Homo sapiens: one gene and its partners. The protein of the gene in region 2 purifies or fractionates together with the protein of the main gene of each other region. This does not show direct contact. Each region holds a gene or a part of one and is shown on either strand. Other genes may lie near its edges.

Region 1 (3,570 bases), on a different chromosome or scaffold from region 2:
GTCATGAGTGCAAAGAAGAATTATTGCAGCCAGTAACAAAAGTCTTGATTCCATTAGCATGTTGGAGGTTTGGAAATGAATTAAATTGATTGAGCTGCCAAAGGAGAAAGTTTTGAGGGAAGACTCAACTACTAGAGCATAAAGGTGATAGTCATCTTTAATAGTATTTTTTCTTTAGCTAAGGTACTAGCAAAGCAAATTGTTTGACTCTTAAACTGATCTCTTCTTATGAACAATTTACTGGATTTTTTTGATAGCCCCTTTATCAGAGTAATTAGTATCTTACCCCAGAGAACTTACTAGAAACTTGTTTCAAGTATACTGACTTTAATTTTAGCAAATTTTGGCTTATAATTGACGATAAAATTTTCATCCTAATCATTACAAAATATTCTTTATTACTTTTAAATTAAAAATTAGAAAAAATGAAAACAAGGTATCTCAAACTCTGAAAGACACTGAGACTTCAGAAAATCCTAACATTTGAGATCTCAAACGAAACTAACAAATATTGACTAATTTACCATTACTAGGTGCCGAGATGTTTTATCCCTCCAGGAGACTATGAGCCTCCTAAATATCCCTGACTTATTATGACAGAGCAATTCCAACAGTCATGAAGGTTCCCTGGAAATCACTTAGAGTTGATCTTGATTGAATTAGTCCAGCCTTCAGAGAAACCAGGGCTGTCACTTGCCCCCGTGAACCACCTGTAAGGAAAATCATTGTTAGTGCCATACGCAGTTTCTGTATTAGCTGTTATGATTGGAACTCTCAGTATGTGTTGTAAAGGTGAGACCACCAAGATCCTGGTTGATTTGAACAAAACTATAAAGAAACATGGCACTATCAGGTGAGAACCCTTTCTCTGTGTGACATATGAGCATATGTTATCATTCACCAGTACAGTGCTTTGAGAAGTGACAGTGCTAGTATTTCAGCAGATGACACAAAGGTCTCATAGTTATTGAAGCCACAATGAAAGCAGACAACCTTTAAATCCATTTATCAAAGCACTTGCAGTTTCCATCTCAAGGCAAGTGAAACAATAATAAATATCGTGCAAAGAAAATGAGTCTGTGGCAGTGCATTTCATGGAGTAAAGTACTGCGCAGCATATTCTCTTCAGGATCAGTGAGCCTACTGAATCATGACTTATCTGACGCTAATGATGCTGTCTTTCCATTTAAAGGTGTACAACCCGAGAATAAGAGCAAACTCGCTCGTCATGCAGCCCATCAGCCAGAGCCAGGCAGAGATACGCAAGCAGATTCTTGGCTCATCTTCTTCAGGTAGTGCTGTGGACACAAATACTAAATGTTGTCAATTCTTGTATGCAGGCAACCCAGAAATATTAAAGCCATTTTTCTTGGTGTCTTTTAGGAAAATTTTTCTGCCTGTACACTGAAGAATTTGCCTCCAAAGACATGACGCCACTGAAGCCAGCAGAAATGCAGGAAGCCAACCTAACAAGCATGGTGCTTTTTATGAAGAGGATAGACATTGCGGGCCTAGGCCACTGTGACTTCATGAACAGACCAGGTAGCCTTATGCTCCCATGTCAGCCAGGCATTAGGCTGAGATTCACCTTCTCCTGCCCATTCTCTGTCCTGAGTTCACATGATGCGCAGCAATGCACACAAGCATGGAGGGGGCGTTGGTTTGGACTGAAGCATTTTCCTGCTAGAGGTAAACATTCTCTGAAGGTAATTTTTAAAACCCCACAAACCTCTAGGAAATAACTGTTCTGACACGAGAAATGTGTCTGCTGTTGGACACTGCAGCACAGGGGAACTGGGCTTAAGGAGCTGGGTAATGTGGAGTATGGAAGCGTAAGGGTGAATCAGCAGAAAGAAGAATTCTCAGCAGCTTGAATTGTCCTTTTTTCTTTTCTTTTTTTTTTTTTTTTTTTTTGAGACAGGGTCTTGCTCTGTTGCTCAAACTGGAGTACAGTGGCGTGATCATAGCTCACTGCAACCTCCACCTCACAGGCTCAAGTGATCCTCCCACCACAGCTTCCCAAATAGCTGGGACCACAGGTGCAAGCCACCACACTTATTAATGTAGATTTCCTTTGTAGATGTAGATTTCTTTTACAAAGTGACAGCTTTTCAGAGCTAGTCCTATGTCTGCAGTTTCTCAGAATAACCAGCTCAAAATATGCCAGAGAAGTATATTTTGGGGTGGCATATTCTAGTCTCCTCCAGTCATATTTTGGGGTGGTGTGTCCTGAGCCCCAACAAGATAGGTTTCATTTTTGAAAATTGCTCTTCCAGTCCCACTGTTCATCTCATAAGCCCAGGAATCACCACCTGTTGATTTCCTAGGCATCTTCTTGCTCAGGGTAGTAGATGTTTGGTGGACTAGAAATGCAGGGAGAAGAAAAGGAAGGCTTGGTGATGTCAAGGATTTTTAAAAGCAAACTATCTCACTGTGTTCTCTCAATAGTCACCCTCTGTGCTGCTCATTCCATGAGGCTTAAAGCTGATAACTGGGGGACAAAAGGGTTAGGGTAACAATTTATTTTTGTCTCCTGACAATACACACATAACTTTTCTGCTGTGCTTGGGGAAAATATAACTGTGGATTAATTCTGACTCATTGTTTTGGAAGCAAAAAAAGAAAAAGATGCTCGCAGCTGCTGCATTTAATTCAACTTATAATTGAAATATGCAAATCCAGCAAACTAGTTACCCTTTTCAGGATGCATGAACCATGTGAAAATGAATTTGGCATAACTAGGCTACAGGCTGTTAATTGAATTCCCCTGATCTGGACCTCTTTTTAAAAAATCAGTTGTATTTTTCTTCCTTGGCTGCCTGACAATTGACCTCCATCCTGAATGACACAGTCACTGTCCATTGGGGTAGGAGGCCTCAGGACCAGCTGACCACTTCAGTGGAAACAGATGGCCTGAGACTGCCGCTACCCTGGGAAGGCAGTGGTACCTAGATAGAAATTTGGAGAAAAACTAGCCAAAAGGTACCAGACTACACCAGAGGTCATCTTTGTATTCAGAGGCAGAACTCATTTTGGTAGTAGCCAGATGACTGGCTTTGGTATGATCTATGATTCTTTGGATTATGAAAAGAAAAGTGAACCCAAACACAAACAGGCATGGCACGTTAGATAAGGCAACGCCTCATGAAAACAGGGGAAAATGCAGGAAGAAAATAAAGTTGCTGGGCACAGTGGCTCACGCCTCTAATCCCAGCATTTTGGGAGGCCGAGGTGGGTGGATCACCTCAGGTCAGGAGTTCAAGACCAGCCTGACCAACGTGGTGAAATCTCGTCTCTACTAAAAACAAAATTAGCCGGGCATGGTAGTGCATGCCTGTAATCCCAGCTACTTGGGAGGCTGAGGCAGGAGAATCACTTGAACTCAGGAGGTGGAGGTTGCGGTGAACCAAGATTGCGCCATTGCACTGCAGCCTGGGCAACAAGAGCAAAACTCTGTCTCAAAAAAAAAAAAAAAAAAAAGAAAGAAAGAAAAGAAAGTCAAAGGCTGCAGAGGCCAGGGATGGCTCTGGTGAAAAGAGGAATTAAAGATTCTGCAGGGCTGGGCATGGT
Region 2 (4,347 bases):
TGAGACAGAGTCGCGCTCTGTCACCCAGGCTGGAGTGCAGTGGAGCAATCTCGGCTCACTGCCACCTCTACCTCCCAGGTTCAAGCCATTCTCCTGCCTCAGCCTCCCAAGTAGCTGGGATTACAGGTGTGCACCACCATGCCCGGCTAATTTTTGTATTTTTAGTAGAGATGGGGTTTCGCCATGTTGGCCAGGCTGGTCTCGAACTCCTGACCTGAAGTGATACGCCCGCCTCAGCCTCCCAAAGTGCTGGGATTACAGGGGTGAGACACCACACTGGGCTCTTTGTTTTGTTTTTTGAGACAGGGTCTCACTCTGTCACCCAGGCTGGAGTGCAGTGGCACAATCATGGCTTACTGCAGCTTTGACCTCCTGACTCAAGTGATCCTCCCACCTCAGCTTTCCAAGTAGCTGGGACTTCAGGCATGCGCTACCATGCCTGGCTAATTTTTAAAATTTTAATTTTGTAGAGATGAAGGTCTCACTATGTTGCCCAGGCTGGTCTTGAACTCCTTCAAGCCATTCTCCCGTCTTGGCCTTCCAAAGTGCTGGGATTACGAGTTTGAGCCACCGCGCCTGGCATGCAAAGAGTCTTTCCCCCTCCCTATCTCTAAAAGTCTTTCAAGGCCCAGCTCAAGAGCCAACCCCACTGCCATAAATGCCCCTTCTCTGATTCTGAGCTCCTCAAATCCTTACTCTTCTGTAGTATTTATCTCACACGCAGAATCAGAGTTGCTTCATGCATGGTTTCTCTCCCTCTCCCGTTAAGACATGGGAGAGGGAGGGCCAAAAGCTTGATTCTCACTAGGGCCTAAGGAACCTTATTTAGCCCACCCAGTCTCTGGCACATAGTATGTAAATATGCTGGCACATAGTATGTAAATATAGATAAATGCAAGAAAGTTGCACTCCCAGCTCCTCGGTGGGCCCTATCAACAGGGCATTCTCTAAAGTCATCAACTGAAGACTGCTTCCCATCCACCCATCCATCCATCCATCCATCCATCCATCCAGAATATGCCTCAACCCCACTGGGTGGAGGTTGGGTCGGCACGCGCCCCCTAGGCCGTTTTGTACGGTTTTATACCTCCAGCCCTCGCAGTTGCGGCTGGTAGAGGATGGCAGAGGTAGGTAGACGATGCAAGTCAAAGGGCACACTCTTCCGCCGCGTAGGATAGGACTCTGTTCGGACGAGTGACCCTGCCCATTCCCAGAATACAGCAACTCTTCAGCCGCCTCTCACCTACATGAGAGGGTGGGGACTCTTCCTGACCGGCGCCCCGGCTGACCAATACCTGATCCAGATCAAGCGAATTAGCCAATGGCTGCGGGTCAGTAATAGGGGCGGGGCATGGTTGCTAGGGCCGAGCTAGTGGGGTGAGGCGAGAGGCTCTGGAAGAGACTCGGTGGTTGCTAAGGCGGGAGGTCACAGAGCGCGGCGCAGGGATTGGGCCGTGTTGGGGGAGGTGTGTGGTGATTGGGCGGCGCCCAGGAGGCGCCCGGGTGAGGCACGGGTGCGCAAGCGGGAGTTCCGGCTGGAGACCCGTGCTCTGGGCCGGCGCCTTCACCATGGCCTCGGCAGAGCTGGACTACACCATCGAGATCCCGGATCAGCCCTGCTGGAGCCAGAGTATGGAATGAGGGTTGGGTCCAGGCGCGGGGAGGTGACCTCATGAACCTGTGGGTTGCGAGCGCAGCTGTAGCCCCGCCCCTCATGCGGCCCCGCCCTCCCTCGGGCCGCCCCCTCATAGGGTCTGGCAGGTCCTAGACTTAGAGAGGCTCAGAGAGCCCCGCCCCTCGTAAGTCCCGCCCCAGAGTGTTCCTCCCTGGCGAGCCCCGCCTCTGCCCGAGTCAGCTGCTCGCTTGGGACCTCTTTTTCTGTCTTTCCTGTCCGGGGTGCTCAGGTCCATGCCCTTTAATCACTTCTCATAGCTGAAGGCTGCCGAAAGCTGGATCCCTCCTGATTCCTTTGTTTGGGATTGGGCTTCCCACATCTAGCCTATCACTTATTATTTTCCCGAAGGCGTGGAGGGGGAGGCTCGCGGGGTCACCGATCCTCGCAGAAGCCCGGGACTCAGAACCCTTAGCCGTCCCTCTCCACTCTTCTCGGCAGTGGTTAACAGTGCAGTCTCTGCCGTCGGGTAGAACTCGACTGAAATCCTGACTCCTTCCTTTAGGAGCTGGATTACCTTTGGTAAGCTACCTTCTCTGAACTTCAGTTTCCTCCTCTGCAAAACCGGGATAAGGATAGTAACCTTCCTCATAGGGCTGTTGGGGCCATCTGGAGATTGTGTAAAGGGCCTGGCATGGAGTGAGTTCAGTAATTGGCATTTACGATCAGCATTGTTTCTCTCCTTACATTAAAGAAAGACATGTAGGATTCTCCACAAAATTAGGATTGACAGCAGGCCCGCATCCATGACAGTGTGAGTAGATCGGGGTCCAGAGAGTGGAAAGTTTGGTCTCTCTGGGAATTCTGGCAGAAGGGCCTTGAAGTATGATCAGCCTGAGGCCAGCGTGTCCCTCACTTGCATTAGTCCAGCATCGCCTTCACGCCTCCTGTCTCACTGCCTGCAGCCCAGCCTCTTAAACTGCTACCACAGTGATCTTTCTAATGCAAAGGTTTGATCTTATACTCTGCTCTCCATAAAACTTACCTCCTTAAGGAGAGCCTTCCCAGATCCCTCCCGTAGCATCTCATGTTCTTTGGTTGGAGTCTAGGAGAGGGCAGCCCTTAGACTCCCGCAGAACAGATGGCCCCAGACCAGCTGTTTTTCCCTAGAACTGGATCTGCTGGCTTAGCGCTTTTGGGTTTATAGATGTAAAAATACTTTGGACACGTTTTGGCGTCAGCAAGCCATGAAGTCAGTTAATATTATTTCCTTTGGAGAGTCTTCGGCTGCAAAGGGTTGGAGCTGCCTTCTGCACGGCCAGGAGGGCAGCCTCGTGGTCCTGGTTCACATTTCAGCTCCATGTCTTACAAGTTATATGTCTTTGGCAAGCTATTGAACCTCCCTGAGCCTGAGATTCCTCCACTGTGAAATGGGAAGAGTACTAGTGCCTACCTCCTCGTGGGATTGCGAGGGTTACGAGGTAGCGTTTGGATGTGTGTCCCTGGCACAGTGCAGGTGCTGCCATTGCATTGCTCCCCTGTGGTTCCCCCTCAGCCCCCCTTTCTTTTTTTTTTTTTAAGAGATGGAGTCTCCCCTGTCGCCCAGGCCGGAGTGCAGTGGCGGATCCCATGGCTCCCTTTGCTGCTCCAGGAGGCTGGGTCTTAGAATTGGAAGAAATCTCAGAGACTGTTTTGTCCTGCCTCCCTCTGTTGGCATGAGTGCATTCCATTGCTAGCAGACCCTTCCCTGGGGCGATGCTTCTGCCCAAACATTCTAGCCTGTTGGAGGCAGCTGGGATTGTTAGAAAGCACTTCCCTTTCTTGAGCCACAATAGGCCTTCCTGTAATTTCCGCTCTCAGTTCAGTATTTGCTGTGTCCTGGCTGTGGGATCGTTGTTGGCCACTCAGAAGTGACTCACACGCCCAAGGAGCTGAGGTTTTGGGGAGGGGAGTGAATTTATAAGCAGGTGGTTTCAAAATGGTGTGCTAACTGCAGGGCTAGAGCATTGTGGTGGGAACGATACAGAGCAAGGAATCTCTCTTCCTCTGTTCAAGAGGACAGCTTCGTGCCTTCACATTTCCTCCAAGGGAAACACCTCCACGGCTTTCAGTTGTTTCTCCTCCTTATTGCTGCTCCTGACTGGCTTTAATTCATTGCCCTTCCCTCTCACAGTCCATGCTCCAGAGGAGAGCTAGAGGTTGTCAAACCCCTCAGAAGGAGATCACGACGCTGTGGTCCCCTGAATCCATTTGCTTCCTATCTGCAGAGCTTCCCTCCAGGCCAACATGGCCTGATAGAGTGACAGTCTTTTGGAGCCCCAGAGATTGTCTGTCTTTTGCAATTACTGTTTAATGGTGGAGAAGTGTATAGGACATTCATATTTAGTTTCTGAAATTACTTTTTAAAAACTTTTTTTTTTGAGGTGGAGTCTAACTCTGTCGCCCAGGCTGGAGTGCAGTGGCACGATCTCAGTTCACTGCAACCTCCGCCTCCTGGCTTCAAGCAATTCTCCTGTTTCAGCCTCCCAAGTAGCTGGGACTACAGGCACCCGCCACCATGCCTGGCTAATTTTTGTAGTTTTAGTAGAGACAAGGTTTCACCATATTGGTTAGGCTGGTCTTGAACTCCTGACCTCAGGTGATCCACCCGCCTCAGCCTCCCAAAGTGCTGGGATTACAGGCGTGAGCCACTGTGCCCAGCCTTTAAAAACACTTTTTTTTTTCAGTTTAAAAAA
Region 3 (3,570 bases), on a different chromosome or scaffold from region 2:
AGCCAGCTAAAAAGTACTTGGGGGAAATATTGCATTGCCACAATCCTTCATCAGAGGAAATATACCATCAGTTGGGCTGAAAGTCCATCTGAAGCCTGTAGTGCCTTTGGATGCTGGTTTTCTGGGCCTGCTTGCACAATTTCCATAGTTTGGTGCTCTGGTGTTAAGTTTCCTCATCTGAAAAACGATGAGTTTGGCTGGAGAACCTCCACATTTCCAGCCAACTATGTCATTGAATCACTGTAGAAGAAGAAGGTGGCAGTATTTGTTTTTTTTAAAGGAGCAGGGGTTGTGTGTGGAGTGGACTGAGAATGTAGTGTAATAAAGAGTAATATAAGAAAATAAGAGGCAAACATAATCTTCAGCATATTTATGAGTGGGTAATGCACAGCCCCTGACCTGTTAGAAGAGACAGCAGATATAAATTGCCAGTGTGTTATCTACCAAACAATAGCCCTGCAGATAAGGTTTTATTTATTTAAAGTCAACATTCAGGATAGGGGTTTAGGTCAGGCACAAATTCTGTCCAAACAATGTAATAAAAATTACTTTACAATAATGACCCTGAGATACTACAAAATCCCAGGTAGCATGCATTCCTCTTTGGGCAGGAAAGCACAACAGTATTTTAGGTAGGTTTCTTTATTTTTTATTTTTTTGAGACAGGGTTTTATTCTGTTGTTGCCCACGCTGGAGTGCAGTGACACAATCTGGGCTCACTGTAGCCTCAATTTCCTGGGTTCAATCAATCCTTCTACCTCAGCTTCCCAAGTAGCTGGGACTATAGGCATATGCTACCACGCCCAGCTAAGTTTTTGATTTTTTTATAGAGATGGGGTTTTGCCATGTTGCTCAGGCTGGTCTCGAACTCCTTAGCTCAAGTGATCTGCCCACCTCGGCCTCCCAAAGTGTTGGGATTATAGGCATGAGCCACTGTGCCCATCCGTGGTAGATTTTTAATAATGAGAGTTGAAGCAAGAAAAGTACAGAGTTTGGGAGGAAAAAAAAAAAGCAATTAAGGGAAACGCTTTACCCTAGCCTGAGAGTCTGCCTGACTCCAAAGCATTAGCGAAAGATTTTCTAAGCTGAATAATGGGTATGCTTTTGGTAAGGATTAAGGAAATGAGCCATCCATTAAATTCTCACTTTTTTCTTTGGCCTCATTTCTATTCAGACCATGTTTAGTGTGTCAGGCCAGGGCTGCCACAGATACTCAAGTCAGCATGAGGTTGTGGGAAGGGTGACTAGGAGCTTGGTATTCAGGCTTGGATTCTTCCCTTCTTGGCAATTGAATGATCTTGGCATGGTGTCTGAATCTGTTCTCAGGACATCTATTTGTAATTGAGGAATAAAATATGCCTTTCCTAGAATTTTTATGAGGATTGGGTGAGATAATATGTTAGAATCTTAGCACTGTGCCTAGCACACAGTGCTCAATTACAGATAGCTGTCATGATCAGTGGTAGAACAGTCAGGTCTCCTGTGCCCTTATGAGCAAAGACAATGTGCACTTTTCCAGGACTTGGTTTCCTTTCCCCTTCTCCCACCTAAAGCTTCACTCTTCTTGTTAGGTGTGACTTTTGTTACATTAATTTTCCATTAGGTTCAGCCAGTTTCCCGGAAGAAGCTTCAATTAGTTGGGATTACTGCTCTGCTCTTGGCTTCCAAGTATGAGGAGATGTTTTCTCCAAATATTGAAGACTTTGTTTACATCACAGACAATGCTTATACCAGTTCCCAAATCCGAGAAATGGAAACTCTAATTTTGAAAGAATTGAAATTTGAGTTGGGTCGACCCTTGCCACTACACTTCTTAAGGCGAGCATCAAAAGCCGGGGAGGTAAGTGCCTCCAGCTCTGTAAGAGACTATTTTTGCTTGGTGTCTCATCCCAGAAACCTTGACCTAATTTAAGGAAAGCTTATTTATAGGACGCTTCCTTTAGGTAAGTCTTAATGCTTTCCTCATCAGTTCTTAAGAGAAAAGGCCTCATGATCTATGTTTACAACATAGTGTGGAATAGAGTAATTCTTGAGAAGGATAAGTGAGTCAAGTGAATTGGAGTTCCTAGGCCTTCACGCAGAATTTTGCAAGACAGTAATTACACTTGTGATTCTTACTATCCCTTGCTGTTCTTTCTTAGGTTGATGTTGAACAGCACACTTTAGCCAAGTATTTGATGGAGCTGACTCTCATCGACTATGATATGGTGCATTATCATCCTTCTAAGGTAGCAGCAGCTGCTTCCTGCTTGTCTCAGAAGGTTCTAGGACAAGGAAAATGGGTGAGTGGTGGATTTAAGAAGAAACTAATTAGGCTATATTTTAGTCCTTCGTAATACAAAAGGCCTTAGCATTTTTACAACACTATCCTTGAAGCAGTTGGTTTTGTTTTGTGTTTTTGAGACAGGGTCTCATTCTGTCACGTAGGCTGGAGTGTGGTGGTGCCATCACAGCCCACTGCAGCCTTGACTTCCCAGGCTCAAGTAATCCTCCTACCTCAGCCTCCCGAGTAGCAGGGACTACAGGCATGCATGACCATGCCTCGCTAATTTTTGTAAATTTTTTTGTAGAGACAGGGTTTTGCCATGTTGTCTAGGCTAGCCTTGAACTCGGCTCAAGCAGTCTGCCCACCTTGGCCTCCCAAAGTGCTAGGATTTCAGGTGTGAGCCACAGTGCCTGGCCTGAAGCAATTGTTTAAAGTCCAAAGTCCTAAAGGAAAACTACTTGGAGAGGGGCATGGGGGCTTGTGCTTGTAGTTCTAGCTACTTGGGAGGCTGAGGGAGGAGGATCATTTGAGCCCAGGCCCAGGAGTTCAAGTCTATCCTGGGGAACACAGAGAGACCCTTGTCTCTTGGGAAAGAAAGCAAGCAAGCTGCTTGGAACAGTTCACATAGAAGTGAGTTGACTATACATACTAAGGTGCATGTGTGCAGTATAGAGTTGTACAGAATGAGGAAGGCCACTAAGAACTGACATGTATGATTTCTTAGATATTACGTTAAGTGAAACAAGCAAGTTGTCAAGCACACAAGACAAAGGAAGGCCAAGGCCTGACTGATTTAGCCAGTAAGAATAGAATGAGCCACTTGTAGATTTAGAAGAGTAGCCAAGGATGGCAGCTCCTCGGGTCTTTGTTTCACATGGCAAAAAGGATAATGTGGAAACAAATGGAGCTGGATGGCTGCAATGCAAGTCACAGGTACACTGTTGTGGAGAAGCCAGTTCTAGACCACCGCTAAACAGTCTTCTAGTCTGCAGTTATACCCTGAGAGCAGTACAATAGAAAACCTCATCAGAACCTAGGGGATACGAAGCTGTCTTGGCCGGGTGCCATGCCAGTAATCCCAGCACTTTGGGAAGCCAAGGTGGACAGATCACCTGAGGTCAGGAGTTTGAGACCAGCCTGGCCAACATGGCAAAACCCCCGTCTCTACTAAAAATACAAAAATTAGCCAGGCATGGTGGCAGCTGCCTGTAATCCAGGCTACTCTGGAGGCCTAGGCATAAGAATCACTTGAACCCGGAAGACAAAAGTTGCTTTGAGCCAAGATCGTGCTACTGCACTCCAGC
Region 4 (3,570 bases), on a different chromosome or scaffold from region 2:
CTGGGAGGACATTTTGGTTTTATCATCTGATTTGGCTTATGATTCCTTGAATTTACAAAAATTAAAGTACTTTGTCTTTGATCTCATTTTATCATCACAGTAGTACTAAGGGAGAGGGAAAATACCAGGTTGAATAGAAAAGGAAACTGAGAGATAAAATGGTTAGAATTTGGACTTTTAGAGCTGAATGATTTAGAGATTATCTAATCCAGCTTTCTCATTTTACAGGTGTAGTTACTGAGCCCACAGAGGTTTATTAAATTGTCAGCATCATATGCTAGTTTACGATAAAGCTAGAATAGAACCCACATCTGCTCTAATTCCTTGCTGACATTTGTAAAAGCTACTTTAGAAGGGTTCTATTGAGTATTGCTTCATTGATGTTTAGCAGATAGTTTATTTAAAAATAACAGGCTGGGTGTGGTGGCTCACACCTGTAATCCCAGCACTTTGGGAGGCTGAAGCGGGAAGACTGCTTGAGCCCAGGAGTTCAAGACCAGTCTGGGCAACATAGTGAGACTCTACAAAAAGTAAAAAAAAAAAAAAAAAAAAAAAAAAAACTAGCTAGGCATGGTGGTACACACCATTAGTACCAGCTACTTGGGGGGCTGAGGCAGGAGAATCACTTGAGTCCAGAAGTCTAGGCTGCAGTGAGCCATGATTGCACCACTGCACTCCAGCCTGGGCAACAGAGCAAGACTCTGTCTCAAAAATAAATAAAATAAAATAAAAAATAATAATATATCTTTAGCAGCTTTGAAAGGGATAATCTCAAGTTTTGCTGCTCAGACTACTGAGATTATTATTAGAAAATAGAAGAAACAAAGAGTTTTTTAAGTGACTCTTATTCAGTAGCTTCCGTAATATTGAGTGTTGTAAAAGTCCAGATGTAATAAAATACAACTCAAGTATTATGAAAGCAGAGACCTTAATTATATAAGTGCTTCCAAAAGAGCTTAATTTACATTATAGCTATTCAAAGTGTATTACATGAATTCTAAAGAAAATCTACAGATTAAATATTGTCATTATAAATGATGTACTTGAACTTCTTTTGAATAATTAGCTTGGAACTTTGTTCTGTGGAGAACATGGGCTTTGGCATTCTGAAGTACTTGGTACTGATTTTTTTTTTTAATTTTCTATTTAAAATAGATGTTTGTATCTGAAAGCAAGGAGACGGCATCTGGAGATGTAGACAGCTTCTACAACTTTGCTGATATACAGATGGGAATATGAAGTGCAATGTGGAACCAGGACTTGGTATTAAGCCTTTCCCAACTTGTGAATATAGAATTTGATAATACACTTTTGTGTATTAGCAATGGTTTTTACTAATGCTAAAACTTTTAAAGTTTATTTTTTAATAAATTGTTGAGTATTACATCATTTACTTGAGGTTCAAAAATAATTCATTTTAAATTAAGTAGTTTTAATCAGCTTAAAAGCTATTTAACCCATTTTAATAAGCTTGCAGTTTTGTTTCTCTGCATATGATATTCTTATTAGAAAACAGAAGTAGCTAAAAGTTTATTATTTTAATCCTATTTAAATGTTCTTTCAAATCTCTAATAATTTAAACTTTCCTCAGTGCTCCATGATACTTTTTTTGAGACTCCATATCATTGCTTATTTTACCTTTTTCAATTTAGAGGGATTTGTTACTAGTCGATCAATTAGAATGAACCTATGCACATTTTTATGTACACATATCCAGTTATATAATTGCTTCCTAGTTGCATTATATGGCAAATGAGATTTTGTACATGGAGTTGACATAATACTTTGTAAATTGAATTTTTTAAAGAAATAGGCATTTGATAACCAGCTTGGCAAGTAACTCTACTAACAGATGTTGGTATAGCTATTTAAAGACTACTTCGTAAGTAGTATGATTATTTGAATAAATTACACATTGTTTAGTTTTTTAATACAACTGCTATATGACTCTTCTGCTTCCTGATAAGAAAAGGTATATGCAATGCTAAAACTGTAGAAGCCCAATCACCAGCAGTTTTTAAAAAGGTGATAACTTTTATTAGCTCTTGTGGGCTATCAAGAGAATTGGAACAAAACCTTGTGACTTTTAGGTAAGAAATAGGCATGATGATAAGCTATGCAGATTATTAAAAAGCTTGATACATTTGATTTTTCATTAGATATGCCATTCATATCAAGTAATGTTCAAGTATGATAAAATTATTTTGGTTGCTTTAAAGCACTGTTTCCCAAATCTACCTGATCATAATAATTTACCAGGAAGCAGAGGAGAGCTACTTGTTTAAAAATCCACATTCTTGGACCCAATCCTCAGATGCACGGATTCAGTCTTCAGGGGAAACTCTGTTTTAAGGGGTATGTTGTAATCTAAAGTAATTGGTTCAGGAGGTGTCAATAGGTTGAACTTGTGAGAAGGCACTGAATCTGCCATCCACATCACATATAGCAGCTATTATGAAATCAGCTTTCATAGGCCTATTTTTAAAAGGAATCTGAAATTTAATTCTATTTTGATAAAACTAAGACTGAAAATAACCACTTGTAAACATTCCTATGATTGTTACTAAAATGTATTTTCATGTTTAAAATGTTTTTGGATATTTTTGGGTTAATAACTACTACATTGAATTGCATGTTAAGGTGCAGAAATAATACATTAAAAGATTTTCACTTTAAATTAATTAGTAATATTGAGCGCTCACCCTGTGCGTGGCCTTGTGCTAACCATTAGCACTGCATCATTTCAATTCTTTTATAAGGGCATTCAATACTACAAAATCAACATGATTTCATAAGGTGCAAATAAAAGTTGGTGACAGATTTAATATAATTTTGATCACAATTTACAAATGATCTTTGCAAATAGTGGTCAGACGGCATTAGTTTTTCCCTTAGTTAAGCTAAATTAAAGGGACTCCATCCTGTTATGATTATATTATTATTATTATTATTATTATTTTTGAGGTGGAGTTTCACTCTTGTTGCCCAAGCTGGAGTGCAATGGCGCGATCTCGGCTCACCACAACATCCGCCTCCTGGGTTCAAGCGATTCTCCTGCCTCAGCCTCCTGAGTAGCTGGGAATACAGGCATGCGCCACTACACCTGGCTAATTTTTGTATTTTTAGTTGAGATGGGGTTTTTCCACGTTGGTCAGGCTGGTCTCGAACTCCTGACCTCAGGTGATCCGTCCACCTCAGCCTCCCAAAGAGCTGGGATTACAGGTGTGAGCTACCGCGCCTGGCCATGATGATATTATTAAACACCATTATTCACATTTCAAATAATAACAATACTTTTTGTTTTTCAAAAATAAAATGCAATGTTATATAAAGCTATAAACTAAGTTCTTTATGATATTTGAGCAACAACTCAGGAATATAACATATAAGGGAGATGTTAATTTAAAAATTTCCACTACACTTATTATCTATTAACCAAAGCTTAAAATTTTGTATTCTTCTGTTAGATAAGACCTTTTACCCATTTAATTTGTCTTTAAGGACAGTCATTTGGCTTCTGAATGTTTGAAACGATTTTAAAAAATAAGTAGTGCTATGGTTGTTTCTATA

Evidence for each region.
Region 1: the proteins of TMEM53 (region 2) and DHX32 purify together in Homo sapiens (affinity purification with mass spectrometry; one large-scale study listed by BioGRID and IntAct). This does not show direct contact.
Region 3: the proteins of TMEM53 (region 2) and CCNB2 purify together in Homo sapiens (affinity purification with mass spectrometry; one large-scale study listed by BioGRID and IntAct). This does not show direct contact.
Region 4: the proteins of TMEM53 (region 2) and RP2 purify together in Homo sapiens (affinity purification with mass spectrometry; one large-scale study listed by BioGRID and IntAct). This does not show direct contact.

The regions. Positions count from the first base shown.
Region 1 is NC_000010.11:125,850,265-125,853,834, reverse strand, and holds part of DHX32 (putative pre-mRNA-splicing factor ATP-dependent RNA helicase DHX32), read left to right. Parts: intron 1-139; exon of another isoform or gene 140-591; coding exon of another isoform or gene 592-710; intron 711-1,192; coding exon 1,193-1,292; intron 1,293-1,383; coding exon 1,384-1,542; coding exon of another isoform or gene 1,543-1,689; intron 1,690-3,570. Other genes in the region: BCCIP (BRCA2 and CDKN1A-interacting protein), read right to left, coding at 592-710.
Region 2 is NC_000001.11:44,671,614-44,675,960, reverse strand, and holds the start of TMEM53 (transmembrane protein 53), read left to right. Parts: upstream 1-1,479; 5' UTR 1,480-1,569; coding exon 1,570-1,630; intron 1,631-4,347. UniProt on the Homo sapiens protein: Ensures normal bone formation, through the negative regulation of bone morphogenetic protein (BMP) signaling in osteoblast lineage cells by blocking cytoplasm-nucleus translocation of phosphorylated SMAD1/5/9 proteins.
Region 3 is NC_000015.10:59,115,087-59,118,656, forward strand, and holds part of CCNB2 (G2/mitotic-specific cyclin-B2), read left to right. Parts: intron 1-1,603; coding exon 1,604-1,840; intron 1,841-2,141; coding exon 2,142-2,282; intron 2,283-3,570. UniProt on the Homo sapiens protein: Essential for the control of the cell cycle at the G2/M (mitosis) transition.
Region 4 is NC_000023.11:46,878,531-46,882,100, forward strand, and holds part of RP2 (protein XRP2), read left to right. Parts: intron 1-1,155; coding exon 1,156-1,239; 3' UTR 1,240-3,570. UniProt on the Homo sapiens protein: Acts as a GTPase-activating protein (GAP) involved in trafficking between the Golgi and the ciliary membrane.